Regions from separate parts of the Homo sapiens genome. Here region 1 is linked to region 2. Evidence: fine-mapped expression QTL. Tissue or cell type: subcutaneous fat. Region 2 holds a variant in brackets; the other region holds the start of a gene. All regions are shown on one strand. Distances are between the middles of the regions.

What was found. PIP is the estimated chance that this variant, and not a neighbour inherited with it, causes the effect.
Region 1: TMSB15B-AS1 starts here. The variant in region 2 is fine-mapped to the expression of TMSB15B-AS1 in subcutaneous fat (GTEx, PIP above 0.99). The same link has a PIP of 0.9 or more in visceral fat.

Annotation. Positions count from the first base shown.
Region 1 is chrX:103,916,086-103,924,193 of GRCh38, reverse strand. TMSB15B-AS1 (TMSB15B antisense RNA 1) reads left to right here and starts at 4,646. Exons shown (of 5, transcript NR_146557.1): 1 at 4,646-4,769; 2 at 5,114-5,362; 3 at 5,734-5,785; 4 at 5,969-6,107. It also overlaps a transcript of TMSB15B not described here. RefSeq lists an enhancer at 4,631-4,720.
Region 2 is chrX:104,169,831-104,177,938 of GRCh38, reverse strand. FAM199X (family with sequence similarity 199, X-linked) reads right to left here. Exons shown (of 6, transcript NM_207318.4): 2 at 2,097-2,316. Among named protein-coding and RNA genes, the nearest start is that of FAM199X, 7.4 kb to the right of the region's middle. The variant A/T (reference allele first, on the strand shown) is at 4,367.

The DNA of each region.
Region 1 (8,108 bases), 250 kb after region 2:
ATTGTGTTGTAGGGCACAGACATGGGCTCTGGATTCAGCCAGCCCTCGGTTTGAATTTCACTCTGTCACTTCCTAGCTTTATAACCTTGGCCAAGTTTCTGCATCTCTCTGATCCTCAGTATCTATATATGTAAAATGATTGTCATGAAGGATGCATGAGACAAAGTATGGAAAGTGCTTAGCACAGCAACTGGTATATAAGTTGTTCCATAAGTTATATTAGTAATTTCATTTTTAAAAATCAGATAATACTAGGAATCCAACATACAAGGGATGTGAAGGACCTCTTCAAGGAGAATTACAAAGCACTGCTCAACGAAATAAAAGAGGATACAAAGAAATGGAAGAACCTTCCATGCTCATGGATAGGAAGAATCAATATCTTGAAAATGGCCATACTGCCCAAGGTAATTTATAGATTCAATGCCATCCCCATCAAGCTACCAATGACCTTCTTCACAGAATTGGAAAAAACTACTTTAAAATTCATATGGAACCAAAAAAGAGCCCGCATTGCCAAGACAATCCTAAGCCAAAAGAACAAAGCTGGAGGCATCACGCTACCTGACTTCAAACTATACTACAAGGCTACAGTAACCAAAACAGCATGGTACTGGTACCAAAACAGAGATATAGACCAATGGAACAGAACACAGCCCTCACAAATAATACCACACATCTACAAACATCTGATCTTTGACAAACCTGACAAAAACAAGAAATGGGGAAAGGATTCCCTATTTAATAAATGGTGCTCGGAAAACTGGCTAGCCATATGAGGAAAGCTGAAACTGGATCCCTTCCTTACACCTTATACAAAAATTAATTCAAGATGGATTAAAGACTTAAATTTTAGACCTAAAACCATAAAAACCCTAGAAGAAAACCTAGGCAATGCCATTCAGGACATAGGCATGGGCAAGGACTTCATGTCTAAAACACCAAAGGCAATGGCAACAAATGATCCATTGACAAATGGGATCTAATTAAACTAAAGAGCTTCTGCACAGCAAAAGAAACTACCATCAGAGTGAATAGGCAACCTACAGAATGGGAGAAAATTTTTGCAATCTACCCATCTGACAAAGGGCTAATATCCAGAATCTACAAAGAACCTAAACAAATGTACAAGAAAAAATCAAACAACCCCATCAAAAAGTGGGTGAAGGATATGGACACTTCTCAAAAGAAGACATTTATGCAGCCAACAGACACATGAAAAAATGCTCATCATCACTGGCCATCAGAAAAATGCAAATCAAAACCACAATGAGATAGCATCTCACACCAGTTAGAATGGTGATCATTAACAAGTCAGGAAACAACAGGTGCTGGAGAGGATGTGGAGAAACAGGAACACTTTTACACTGTTGGTGGGACTGTGAACTAGTTCAACCATTGTGGAAGACAGTGTGGCGATTCCTCAGGGATCTAGAACTAGAAATACCATTTGACCCAGCCATCCCATTACTGGGTATATACCCAAAGGATTATAAATCATGCTGCTATAAAGACACATGCACATGCATGTTTATTGCAGCACTATTCACGATAGCAAAGACTTGGAACCAACCCAAATGTCCGTCAATAATAGACTGGATTAAGAAAATGTGGCACATATACACCATGGAATAGTATGAAGCCATAAAAAAGGACGAGTTCATGTCCTTTGTAGGGACATGGATGAAGCTGGAAACCATCATTCTGAGCAAACTGTCGCAAGGACAGAAAACAAAACACTGCATGTTCTCACTCATAGGTGGGAATTGAACAATGAGAACACTTGGACACAGGATGGGGAACATCACACACTGGGGCCTGTCGTGGGGTGGGGGAGGGGGGAGGGTTAGCATTAGGAGATATACCTAATGTAAATGACGAGTTAATGGGTGCAGCACACCAACATGGTACATGTATACATATGTAACAAACCTGCACGTTGTGCATATGTACCCTAGAACTTAAAGTATAGCACTAATAAAAAATAAATAAATAAATAAATTAAATAAAAATGAGATAATAGGGCAGAGCTTGCAGTGAGCTGAGATCGCACCACTGCACCCCAGCCTGGGTGACAGTGGGAGACTCCGTCTCAAAAAAAAAAAAAAGAGAGAGAGAGAGAGATAATAGGAATAAAGGCAAGATAACAACTAAATTGTTCTAAAAGCTGCAATCGGTCTAATGAACTGGGTTATCTGCAGAATGCCTTTTAGACTGCTTGTTTGGAAGGCAGCAAAGAAGAGTTTTCATGGGCTTTGGAGTTTGACATCCCTGGCCTGCAATCCCAGTGCCTGCACTTAAAAGTTGTGAAGCCTTACACAAGTTACTTAACATCCCTGAAATTCAGTTTCCCTCTCTGCAAAATGGGATACAATGGCTGTCTCAACAGTGTTGCTGGGAAGCTTAAATGAGATAACAGATAGAAAGTTCCTGGTACAAAGGAGGAAGGCAGCCAAAGGCAGCTATTATTGTTTCAGCTGAAAGCTTTATCTCTAAACCTTCAAGCTTCTAAGGTTTATGTGTTAAAATTACAAAATGTGGTCTCATTAGAGCCATCAGTTGGAACAGACTCACACACATGAGGCCAGAGATAGGATGTCCTGTATCCAATTGGAGCCAGGTTGCAAATACTCCCCCCATCCCTGCACAAAATGTCTCTCGCTTTGTTCCAGTAGTCCAACTCTGGCACCTTTACACAATCCATTTCCTGTCATTATTTTTGTCCGAGCTCTGACACCTATTCTTGGTCTTATGTGATTCCATCCCTACCAAGTCCAGCTGCAAATACCTAATTTGGTGATAAAGCCAATTTAAACACTGAACAAGAGTCTTCTGGGAGGCAAGAGTCAGATGTCACGGGACAGGGGAGCAGAAGCAAAAGTCTGAAGGAAACCTAAGAGCTACTGCCACCATCACCCCTAAGTGTGCGAGGTGAGCAACCTGCCTTCTCCATACATCCACACTTTCCACCTTCCACCACCACTACCCCACTGTTCCATCCACAGGCCACAATCCTGAGATGGAAAGTGCTTCATCTCCAAATCTGTATTGTTTACTCCAAGGAACTCTACATCTTGGGGTTGTAAATAAGAGGGTGGAAATGAGTGAGTGAAGTGCCTTGGCAGGCTGAAGATGAAGCCAACGGCAGTGGAAGGGCTTCAGACTGTTCACTTGCTTCCAAGCATCAGGAGTCAAGAACAGGCCCCACAGGAGCCTCCTAGCCACACTATACATAAAGGAAGTAATACCTGCTCTCTAAGTCAGGGAAAAATGGAGCAGGTTTTCCAGCCACTGCCTTCATGGCCATTCACTTTGGACAGCCCTGCATGCTGTTTCCATGGAGTTGCTCCTTCTCTGGGGCCAGTGATGCCAAATCCAGCAAAGGAGAAGTCCCCTGAAGAGCTCACAGAAGGGCAACCTAGCAACCTGTCCTTGAGCCAGGAAATGAAAGAGCCATATCAGCAACAGAGAGCTGTGGTTTGGGGGTTAGGTTAAATGGGGTTTGATTTCTCACACTTCTTCATCAAGCATGGCTTGAAGAAGGAAGACATTATGACAGACCCATTTGAAAATCTGCAAAGCTGTGGACTCAGAAGAATGTACGGAGTCCAGATTCTTTGCATACAGTTCCAGGAAGGACCGCGGGTAGGAACCTGTGCTCTGGAGTTACATTTCATAACAGATATGCCATGGACAAATACACTGATGACAGGCCCATTTACTTATAACCTTCAGCATCACGTGGTGGTGTTTAGAACAGTGGTTCACGAATCTCTCTACACCTCAGAATCAACTATGGGGCTGTTTAAAACTACAAATCACACTCTTTACCTGTAGTCCTAGTACATCAAAATCCCCCAGGGGTAAGGCCCAGGAATCTGCATTTATAACAAGCTCTCCAAAATGATTCTGAGGCAGCCCACTTTTTACTCACTTTAGTTAATAGTATGAGTTCTGGATTCAGAGATTCGGTCCAAATTTTGGCTTCACCTTGTAATTTCAGACAAATCATTTTACCTCTCTGAGCCTTGCCTCCCTTGGCGTCACAAAGGGCTGTCGAAATTATGTTGCTTTTATAAAAAGGGCAGCTTTTTGTAGTATAAAAAAAAGTATTTTTAAAAAAACGAAGGAAAGAAGAGTGCCAAGAAGAGTTTCCTCTTCTGTACAATGGGCACCATAAAGGTTGCCTTCATCTTCCCTCAGCCCTCTCCCTACTACCTCCTCACCCCCTCCCTCAGCACTATCATCACATTGAGACTGCTGTTGAGATGGTTTGAGACTACCTGTGCAAAAGTGCTCTTCAGACAATGCTGCAGGGCAAACAATTAGCATCTAGAGAGCAACATACAGGTGCTAAGTTGGATGCTGTAACTTCTTTGCTGCGGGATACAGTGCAAGACGCTTAACCTCTCTGTCTTTGGCTCAGTTTCTTCATCTGTGAAATGGAGATAACAGTTCTTGCTCACTAATTCTATGCAGTCCCAAGTTGGTCCTCCCATCCTGGCTTTGGTTTTTCTCCGCTATCCCTTAATCTAACAGAATAGAGGAGTGTTGGCAAGGGGTAGCCTTTGAAGTCAGATATGTTGACTTGGGAGTGAGCTCTTAGCTCTGCACTTCCTAACTGTACCGCCTGGGTGTTTCAGTCCTTTCCTGTTAAGTGGGCACACTGCTACCTCCTTCACAGGGCTGCTGAGAAGAAAGGAGACAGGCGCATCCGCACACAGAAAGCACTCAGTAAATGCTGTTTCCCCCCTTCCCCCTATACAAAGGTAAGGAACTCTCATTGTTCACTTGGTTTCTGTCCCACCTCGTGTTTCAGGCATCCGGTCTCAAAGCCCGGAGCAGAGCCGAGGCGGAAGGGGATGGGGAGAAGGGAAGCGACGGGGTAGCAGCAAACTCACAGATGAAAGGGAAATGGGCCTGGTCCGTGCGTCCGAGCTCCACTTGACGCCGCGCCGGCTCCCGTGCCTGTCGGCCTCAGCCCCCGCCAGCCAGCTCCCGAGTCTTGCTAGCAGTAGCTTCAGGGCCAGAGGCTGCTTGGGTAGGCCGCCTCCTCGCCCCGCTGATTGGCCGCGTCGCGCGGCTTGTCACGCTCTTTTGTCTCAATGGGCAGAGACTGAAAGCAACCGCGGCTGCCCGGAGGTCCGAACTGGAGGGTGGCCGCAGCCGTGACTTCCTTGGGAACCGCGCTGCCTCGACTCGGCTACCTCTCTGCGAAGCACTCGCTAAGCCGGGCAGCCCCGGGGTCGCTTAGCGGCCCAGGAGGCGCCAGCGATCCTGTTCCCCTGCAGAGCTATGGGGACCGGAAGGCGAAACAGAGCTGTCGACGCGGGAGCATACGCTGCCCACCAGTGGAGCGCAGGTAAAGAAAGAGCGCGCGATTTCCCGGCGCGGAGAGGGGTGGGGGAAGCCCCACCAGGACTGGGCGGCGCCCGGCTTGGAGAATCAGTAACTGCGAGGCAGGGGATGGAGCACTCCCATGGCCTGGTTGCGCTGAGAAAGGAGTTGTGGCTCATCTGGATGCTGCCGACTGGGTAGGATTTATGATTTGCCTGGATTGAAGTGGGCGGGGGTGTTGTCGGGCGTCGGGGGCGGGTGTTCGGGGAGGTGGCAAGGGGCGGGAGAAGACGATCGCAAGCTGTCTTGAACCCCTTTTGCATCTCCTCATCTCTTCCTGGGAAGGAATATGGGGGTGGGAGGTCATCCAACTTCTAGTCCCTTTCTCTCCGGCAGGTCATCAAAGCCGAATCCGAATTTGAATTCTGTGCGGCTGATTGCAGAGCTGGTAGGCCGACGGTTTCCCGCAGGAAATGTACGGGGGGCGGGAGTGCAGGAGGCACTTTGGCTTGTGTTCAGAAGATGGGAGAGGGAATTTTCCGCCTGGCGACAGAGGAGGCGGTGGAGGGGAGGTATCAGGTTTTCAGAAGAGGCTGCTCCCAACCCTTCCTTTCCTTCCTTCGCGGCACAGTCTTGAGGCCCTGAGGACTGGGATCTGCGACCCCCAGTGGACAAAAGTCGACTCTACCCCAGAGGCTAATTTTCTCAAGGCAGGCACCTGTTGAGAGGCTGCAAGTAAAATACAGGGGAACGCTAGTTTCCGAGCTCATGTAAGAATCTGAGAAATAACGGGGGTAAACTTTGACAAAGGGGTGTGTGATTGAGACCTGAGGTCATGAGATTAATGGGTTCTTATTACCTCTTGCGGGGGGAGGTAGTAAAGGGGAGGGGCAGGTGGCCTGTGGCGTCCTGAAGATTTTTCATGCATTCTTTTTCCGAGAACTAAACATTGTCAACTCTAATATATCTATAGCGCAACTTGCTTCAAGGACAGTAATAATTTTCATTTAATAATTTTCCATTTAATCCCTTTACTACATGGTCATTTCTGTCTCTTATATTCCTAGGTTTCCCTTTATAAGGATTAGTCAGATCAACATTATATCTCTAACAATGTTCCTTAGCTTTTTCACTCTCATTATACCTAGAGAATTTAATGGAATAAACCAGATTTTATATATATATATATATATATATATATATATATATATAAATGTGTGTGTGTGTGCGTGTGTGTGTGTATAAAATTACTCAACATTCAAGTAGTCTTGAAAAAAGATGGGTAGGAGTCACCTTCTTTCCCTTCATCAGTTACCAGTGTTCTCTTAACATAATGGAAGAGGCAGGAGGTATTCCCACCTACAACTCAGGATTCCTATGTCCTATGGGTTCAGTTGTGTCCCCCCCCCCAAAAAAAAACACCAAATACATCTATTGGACTCCTGACCCCTCGTCTCTCTCCTACTTGAAGATGGGTTTTTTAGTGGGATACTGAAGTTAAATTACATTCATTAGGGTGGGCTCTAACTCGAAATGGCTAGCGTGCATTGTGCCTATCAAAAGGGGAAATTCAGACAAAGAGACATGTGTACAGGGAAGAAAATGTGAAGTAGCATACAGAGAAGTGGGCCATCTACAAGCTGAGGAAAAATCCCTGGAAGAGATCCTTCCCTCTTATTACTCAGAAGGAAACAACCCAGCTGACGCTTTGATTTGGACTTCCAACCTCCAGAACTGTGAACAATTAATGTCTGCTGTTTAGGCCACCCAGGTCTGTGGTACATTGTCAGGCTAACAGAGCAAACCAATAGGGATTCTGTTGCCAGACAGATCTGATAGCTAACACCTGAAAGAGTGGAAGCAGCTTTGGAACTAGATAATGGATAGAGACTGGAAGCATTTTGACATGCATGGCACAAGAAGCCTAGAGGGCCTTTAGGAGATGGCTGGGGGAAATATGGACACCAAATGCAATTCAAGTGAGGGTTAAGAAAAGAATTATTTGCTGCAGACAAAGGATCTCTGACTTAGAGAATACATATATCATGATCACCGATATGTTGCTAGAGCTATGAGTGTTAAAGGTGCTTGTGGTGAGTTATGAGACCGAAACTAGGAAGATGTTACTGGAAGCTTGAGGAAAGGCAATCCTAGTTTTACAGTGGCAAAGGTTTGGTCTGTATTGTTTTCTTAGTGTTTTTGAGGAAAGTAAAAATTGTAAGTGATGAACTTGCACATGCAGCTGACTTCTATTGTTGGGGCTCAGAGCATGATACCCCAAAATAAAGGCCCCAGAAGTAGTCTCGGATGTAAAAGATGTTCTCTGAGGTCCTGGGTCCTCCTGTCTGTCAGCCCCATTCTTCCCAGGGAGCTAACTGTACAGACCAGAATCCCTCTTCCCCAAGGTGGGTCCTAGAAACCAGAAGCCTTTTTTTCTAAAGATAGTCACAAAGCCTAAAAATACTTTTCTAATTTTTCCTCCACCTTTTTTGTGTAAAACTGGTCATAAAGAAATGATCTGACCTTGTTTGACTGCAGGTCACAAGACCCCATTACAGAGAGGGTCCTGCCCCATACCCAGGAGGAAGAAATCTGTGTTCACAGAAGCCAAGCACAGTCTAGACAAACAAGCCCTGCTGGATTAGCATTAGGTCTTAGCCTTTTTGTCCCATCATATTTCTACAGGGCTGTCCATACTTTGTTGAACCTGAGCATATAAATAGACAATTTACCCTGTACCTTTCTGCCTTTGCTCCGAAGGCTGCAGTGTA
Region 2 (8,108 bases):
AAAAACTTTGGTGTCAAAGGACACTATCAAGTGAACAAATGCTAACAAGCAAAAAGACAACCTGCAGAATAAAAACATTTTTGCAAATCATATATCTGATAAGGGTCTAGTAGCCAGAATATAGAAAGAACTCTTACAACGCAACCATAAAAAGTAAAATAACACAATTTTAAAAGCAGCAAGGTATCTGAATAGATATTTCCCCAAAGAGGACACACAAATGGCCAATAAGCACATGAAAAGATGCTCAAAACCATAATGAAATACCAATTTATACCCAGTAGGATGGCTACAAACAGAAAGACAACGCCAAGTGTGGACAAGGATGTGGTGAAATGGGAACTTTCATACGCTGCTGGTGGAAAAGTAAAATGGTGCAGTCACTCTGGAAAACATGTTGGCAGTTCCTCAAAAAGTTAAATAGCAAGTGATCATATGATCCAGCAATTCCACTCTTTGGGGTATATTCAAGAGAATTAAAAATATAAATCCACATAGAAACTTGAACCTGAATGTTCACAGCAGTATTATTTATAACAGCCAAAAAGTAGAAACAACCCAAAAGTTCATCAGGTAATGAGTGGATGAACAAAATGTGGTACTGTACATCTACACAATGGAATATTAGCCATAGAAAGGAATGAAGTACTGTTATATGGTACAACATGGATGAACCTTGAAAACATTATTCCAAGTGAAAGAAGCCAGACACAAAAGGCCATATATTCATCCATTGATATGAAATATCCACAAAAGCAAATCCATAGAGAAATTAGATTAGTAGCTGCCAGGTGATAAGGGGGAGGGGAGAATTGGGACTATGTGCTAATGGGTATAGGATTTCTTTTGGGGTTGACAGAAATGCCCTGGAATTAGCGGTGATGGCTGAACAACTGTGAGTATATTAATAACTACTGAATTATACATTTCAAAATGATGAAAATGGTGAATTTCATCTCAAATTTTTAAAAAGTTTAAAAATGTTTTAATCCAAATAATATGAAAAACAAAAATGGAAGGGTTGTGAATTACTTTTTTTCTTAAAAAAAAATCTCATCTTTTCAGTGTAGCATTGTTTATAACAACAAAAAACTGAAACCAACCGAAATAGCCATAATTAGGAAATGGATTAAGTAAATTATGATCCAGTTATGGAAAAGAATGAGATGTGTTAGCTGAAAAAAAGCATAGGGCCAAACAGTGGATGAAGTATAATCCCATATGTTTTTAACAGTATGCAAACATACTTATATCTGCATAAGCTCCTAACAGTGGTAACCATAGTAGAGTGGGACTTGGAGACTTTTTTAAATTTGATGCCATTCTGTATTATTTGAAAGCTGTTTGAAATTATAATATTCAATCCCTCTTTTGGAATAAAACTTCAAGTATTCAGATGGCTTTCAAATGTAGCAGACATTCGAGTTTATCTAGCGAATAAAATCTTTGCTGTAGGCAGGGAAAACGTCTTTAAATGTTTTATTGTTTTTACAATCAGAATATGAATGTTGTAATAACACAATCTAAATTTTCTGACAAACTGCACTTATTATAAGGCAGGATTTTCAAACAATTTACCACAAAGCCATTTTACATGGTATATATGCCACAAGAAAAAAGTGTCAGGCGAAAAACATGTCTACATACAAACAGAATACAAAATGAGAAATTATATATTTCTGATGACAGAACCAAAAATCATGTATTTATGGTAATAACAGTTTATGATATTAGGTACATAATGTGACTGATATTTGTCCTATAAGGACACAAAAGCTATTTATTATAGGGTAGGAAGTGTAACTTTGCTTGGATTCATGCACAGAAAGGTACCGATAATATATAATAATGGTAATATTACGCAAGTATTAAATAACATAAAAATCTACAAAAGGATATCTATAGCATCAAAAAGGTACATTAGCAAAAATAAAGATATCCCATCCAATTCTTAACCTTAAAACATGTCAGAGAATCTCCAGGACTGGATAAACATTAGAGAAATTTACTTTGAAGTAGAGATGAAAATATCAAAAGAAAAGTTTATACTTCTACTTCGGTAGTAACAATGTCAAGAAAAGGACAAAAAAACTTACCTGCCATTCAAACTCGCTATCTGACCAATCCCAGTAAGTGCTAATAGAAGAAGAGACATCACTGCAGACACTCCCCTCAGGAAATAAATCAAAAGAAGTGAAGTCCTGATCATCTAACAGGGAATAGCAATCATCTTGATCTCCAACAGACACAGATGAAAACAGCTCCTCACTGCCTTCTGAGCTGGCAACACTTGTTCCACAAGAAGTTAGGTTCCACCTTCAAAAACACAACACGAAAGAAATCAAGAGAACTACAGAATCCATACAATTTTAAGATATAATTAACAGGACATATTTATAACATTTATAAGGAATGTGAGGTTTTTTGTATTTTTAAAAGAGCCCCTACCTTTTAAGGAAATATACTAAAATATTTATGAATGATACATGTCTAGGATTTGCCTCAAAATAAGGCAGGGGTTGGGGAGTGGATAGAGGTACAGATGAAGCATGATGCCGTATATGAATAAATGTTGAAGCTGGGTGACAGGAACATGGGGTCCATTACACTTTTCTCTCTACCTTTGTAGCTGTCTGAAAATTTTTGTAGTACACTATTTTAAAAGAAAGTAGTATTTAAATTAGGACTAAAGTAAAATCTTCATCCATAAACAAAGCATACAGCATAGTGGTTATGAGTAAGCTCTGGAATCAGACAGTTCAAATTCTTGCTCTGTCACTTCCTAGCTAATTGATTTTAAGCAAATAACACTCTCTCCAAGTCTGTGTCCCAATGGAGGTATCGTGATGATCACATGAGAATGCATACACAGCACTTGTAGCACACATAAAAAGTGCCCAATATATGACAGCTATTATTATTGTTAAAGGAAGAGTGGGGCCATTGCAGGGCAGAGAAAAGCACTAACAAGCATCTACACAGGTAGATGTTCAAGAAGTATTTGTTATATTTAAGTAACTTTTTCATATTAATGCTGTACAGGCTCATTGCAAAGATGTTGGAAAGAAAGGAATGAATAATAAAATGATCAATAATTCCATTATCCAGCAATAACTAATCTATAATATTTTGGTAGTTTATTTTTATGTGCATACATATTTTTTACAGAATCAGCAACCATTCTGTGTATATATATTTTAGTATATTGCTTTTTTCACTTAACATTAATATGCTAAACATTTTCCTAAGTATATTACTTGAAAACATTTTAATGCCTATATAATATTCCATTGGCTAAATGTATCATAATTTATTTAACTTTATTCCCCAATGATACATAAGCTGTTTCTAATTTTTTAATATTAGAAATAATACTGAGATGAGCATTGTTTATAATTATTTATCAAAATATATTATCTCAGGATACAGTTGCTTGAAAGGTAAGTACTGAGTCAAAGAATATGAACATTTCTAAGGATCAATTTAGTCAACACCTTTCTGAAAGGCAGCATCAATTTATACTCCCCAGGGCAGTATATAAAAGTGCTCATTTCATCACAATCTTAACAGCACTAAAATTGCTAAAAATTTTTTTACCTATCTTATAGGACAGAAACTTCTTGCTTTTTTGAGACAGGGACTCACTTCTCTCATTGAGGCTGGAGTACAGTGGCACAAACACAGCTCACTGCAGCCTCAAACTCCCAGGCTCAAGCGATTCTCCCATGTCAGCCTCCAACTCCCAGGCTCGAGCGATTCTCCCATGTCAGCCTCCCAAGTAGCTGGGACCACAGGTGCAACATGCCCACTTAATTATTGTATTTTTTGTAGAGATGGGGTTTTGCCATGTTGCCCAGGCTCGTCTCAAACTCCTGAGCTCAAGCCATCTGTCCGCCCCAGCCTCCCAAACCACTGGAATTACAGGCATGAGCCACTGCACCAGCACAGAAACATTTTTATATCAAGTTTTATTTATTTAATTACCAGCAAGATCAAATTTTTAAATATTCATTAGCTATTTCGCTATGGTGTTTTCCTATGTGCTAATATTTTCATTACTAATTTTGTAAGAGTTCTTTATGTATTAAGGATATTAACATTTTGTCTACAGTATTTATTGCAGGGTTTTTTGGTTGGATCTTTTTTTGGTCTTGAAATCTATCAATCTGTTTTCCTTTGTAAATTTCCACTAGTTTTATACTATTAATAAGATAATCTTCATTGCTTTGCCAGTAGCATAGAGAATTAATCCTTAAGATAATTATTTAGTATTTCCAGTACTAACAAGCTCCTGAAGTAATGACTTCCTTATGAAAAGTCTGTTATTTACCTATTATTAGGTCGTGTCTCATCCTTCATTAAATCT[A/T]CTGTTTCTTAAATTACGCACTTCATTTTTTTTAACTTCCTCCATTTTGTATGGCTAATCTTTTAGAAGTTCTTGATTTACATACAAAATTTGGACAACCTGAAAAACTTTATGGTACCTTTTCTTTTGAAGGTAGACCATTTTAAAACACTGAAACACACACACACTATTATAATTCAGTAAATAGAAAGTAGATGTCAATAAATTTTTATAGATAGTAAAAAAAATAAAATTCATCTAAGAATCCTAGAATATCTTGTAATATTACTTTCATCACATGCTCGCTAGGTGAACAGTATCCTCATTTTAGAAAAATTTTTAATTAACCAAATTATCCCAGGTCTTGCAATAAAAGTTATGAAGAGGAATCATACCCTGGTTTGAGACCAGTCTGGGTAACAAAGCAAGACAGTATCTCTACAAAAAGTTAAAAAATGTGCTGAGCAAGGTGGTGCATGTCTGTATTCCCAGCTACTCTCGGGAGGCTGAAGCAGGAGGATCCCTGGAGCCCAGGAGTCTGTGGTTATAGCAAGCTGATCCTGCCACTGTACTCTAATCTGAGCAACACAGCAAGGCCTTATCTCAAAACAAAACAAAAATACATTCTGGACACAGTAAGCCTTATCTACATTATGTCCTGAGCAAACTATTTTTCTCTTGTGTCTTCAAATTACATGTGATTTTTTTCCCTTTATTCATTCACTCATTCAACAAACATTTAGTCAGTATCTTCTATGTACCAAGTACTATGTTCGGTGCTAGGAAAAACTGTTAGATAATTGTTTTTAATTAGAATTTCTTTTTAGTTTGTAAAAATTCTGTAGAAATGTGTTTCTCTCCATGAGTAATAGTGACATTCCTTAAAAAAAAAAAAAAGATGCCATATTTAGTAATCTAACCATTAGATCACTGCCAAAGGAGTCAGGAATTTGCTTCATTTTGTGCTCTTACCTTTGGGCAAAGTCAATGTGTTTCTCAGATTTGTAATCATCACAAGGTTCTGAATGTTCTTAGAAGTCTTTGTCTTTTGTTTTTAATTATCAGCAGCAAGTAAACCGGGCTCATAATTGAACAAATCATTCATAAAATAGAATAACAGTATTTTTTACTAGTAAAGATTGTAACATTTTTTATATCTTCCTTTTTTTTTTTTGAGTCAGGGTCTTGCTCTGTCAACCAAGGCTGGAGTGCAGTGGTGCGACCATGGCTCACTGCAGGCTTGACCTCCTGGGCTTGATTCATCCTCTCACCTCAGCCTTCCCAGCAGCTGGGACTACAGGCACATACCACCACGCCTGGCTAATTTTCACATTTCTTTTTTTTTTTTTTTTTTGGAAGAGAAAGGGTTTCATCACGTTGTCCGGGCTGGTTTCAAATGCCTGGGCTCAAGCAATCCTCCCACCTTGGTCTTCCAAAGCGCTGGGATTACAGGTGTGAACCAATGCACCTGGCAAAATTTTTATATCTTCTAATTTGCAAATTTTTAAAATCATAATTTTAAGGCAATATAGATAAAAACAAAGTAGGAAGTACTTTCATCCATTGCCAGTGACAGTCTAAGTTGACATAATCTTTCTTAAAAGCAATTTGGCAGTACTATGTACATCTAGACGTTTAAAAAGGTTCATTCATTTGGAATCAGTAATTCCCCTTCTAGGATTGTGTTCCCTTCCCCAAACAGAAATTTGGAAAAAAGATGTGTGTACAAATATGTCCAAACAATACTATTTGTAATAGTCCAAAAGGGAAAATAAATGCCCCTAAAATATGAGGATTAAATGATATATCTGAATGGTATTTTTATAATCACTAAAAATCATATTTTCAGATTATTCAAAAGGAAAACACCCAACAATATAGGAGCAAATATGCAGGTCACAAACTGATCCTGATGTTTAAAAATTATATCTGTACATAGACACATTAAAAGAAACATCAAAATGTTGATAGTTGTTACCTTTGGGGAAAAGGATCATGAGTGGTCTATAGTTTTTTATATGCCCTCAGTTTTCTATAATAAGTTTTTAAATAAAAATTTAAGTGTGATTCTTTCAGACTGTTCTGTCAGTTTCAAACTTGTAATGAATGTCCATTGTGTGCTCAGCACTAAACTATTTAAATTTACAAGCCCTTACATTATATTCCACTAAGAGAAAGTTACCTAACACTTCGACTCTAGCTATCACCATAATATTACTCTCAAAAGAGACTTTCTCCAAAATCTTGAAAGACGTTGAAAAGAATTCCAGTGAAACACGGTGTTTAACTCAATAACTAGGCTTGCTGCCCAAATTTTAATTAAAAAAAAAAATAAAGCCAAGAACATTTCTCTGCAAGGTGTTTCAGCAAGAATATACAGACTAAGGACTTTCAATGGTATTTTGGTAAACAGCCATTTAAACGTTAAAATTAAGAAAAGCATGTGTACCATGTACACATTCCTCTGCACCCCCTTTTCTCTCAGGTGGGCCTGACTGCCACTTCTGAAGATAAGAATCCAGCCAATGAGCACTGTTGAATGAAGTTCTGCCAAGCTGATGAAGGTCATTTGAAGTCTATGCTATATATTCATTCTTAGGGTACAGTGCCCCATCAGTACTTGTATTCACCACTGACTCTCTGCCAGAATCCCCATATAGCCAACCTGACTTCTGCTGCTATTCTGGAGTCCAACAGGCCACCAAGGTTCCAAGTTAGAGAATATACAACCCCTTCTTCTACCCACTTAAGTTCCCTACTTTCCTCCTAGCTACCCCAATTGTGTTGGGTTCATTACCCATCTTTCCTGCCCTCTTTATTGCCTTGGAAGTAAAAAACACTCTATGTCATTTCTAAGGCTAATGATCCCATTTGGACTTCTGAGTTCATCATGTCTATCTCTCATCCCACCTTCTTTTATATTTTCAATTTCTCCCTTTCCTGTGGCCTGCTTCTAAGGAGCTAACATCTCTATTCTTGGAAAAGAAAAACTAAATGAAGTTAAAAAAAGAAAAAAAGAAACCTTTATTTCCCTTTCAAATTCTCACAACATCTCCCCTTCTCCTTTCTTTCCCTGCTAAATTTATTGAAAACCTTCCACTCTCTCAACCTTTGTAACCTGTAGTTCCACTTCTATCACGTCACGGACTTCTACTGATTACTCCCAAATCTGTATTTCTAGCTTGGATATTTCTCCAAATCCTAACCCCCCATTTTCAACTTGTCTCAGCAAGTCCCCAAACCAAATTCCTCCAACATGGTTCTCCCACCTGCAACCCACAGCTCTTCTGCACCTCTAATTCTGTATCTAGATAGGAAAACTATGGGTGTTACCAAAGGCACACAATAGTCTTTAGGTTTTTCTGGTTAATGGTGATTGAAAACGGAGCTCTAAAATCACATAACTGAGTAAAAGATTTATGCAATAGTTTGGAAGTGCTAAGAGAAAACCTCCATTTACATCAGAAAATCACTGCCCCCAAAACCAAAGAAAATGTCTTAAACACTACATATGTTCCACACTGACATTTCACATTTTTAAAAAATTCATTCACTTTTTTGGCTTATTGAAATTTATTCTATTTTCCTAAAATTCTAGACCAATCCATGTAGGTCTTAAGGTATGAATGCTTAGGAAACTGGCTGTGTCCATGTAATGTATTTTCTACTGAACCTAGACCAGTGACATACCAACCTACATCACAAATGACTTTAATTTGAATACTGGGCCGGGCGCGGTGGCTCACACCTGTAATCCCAGCAC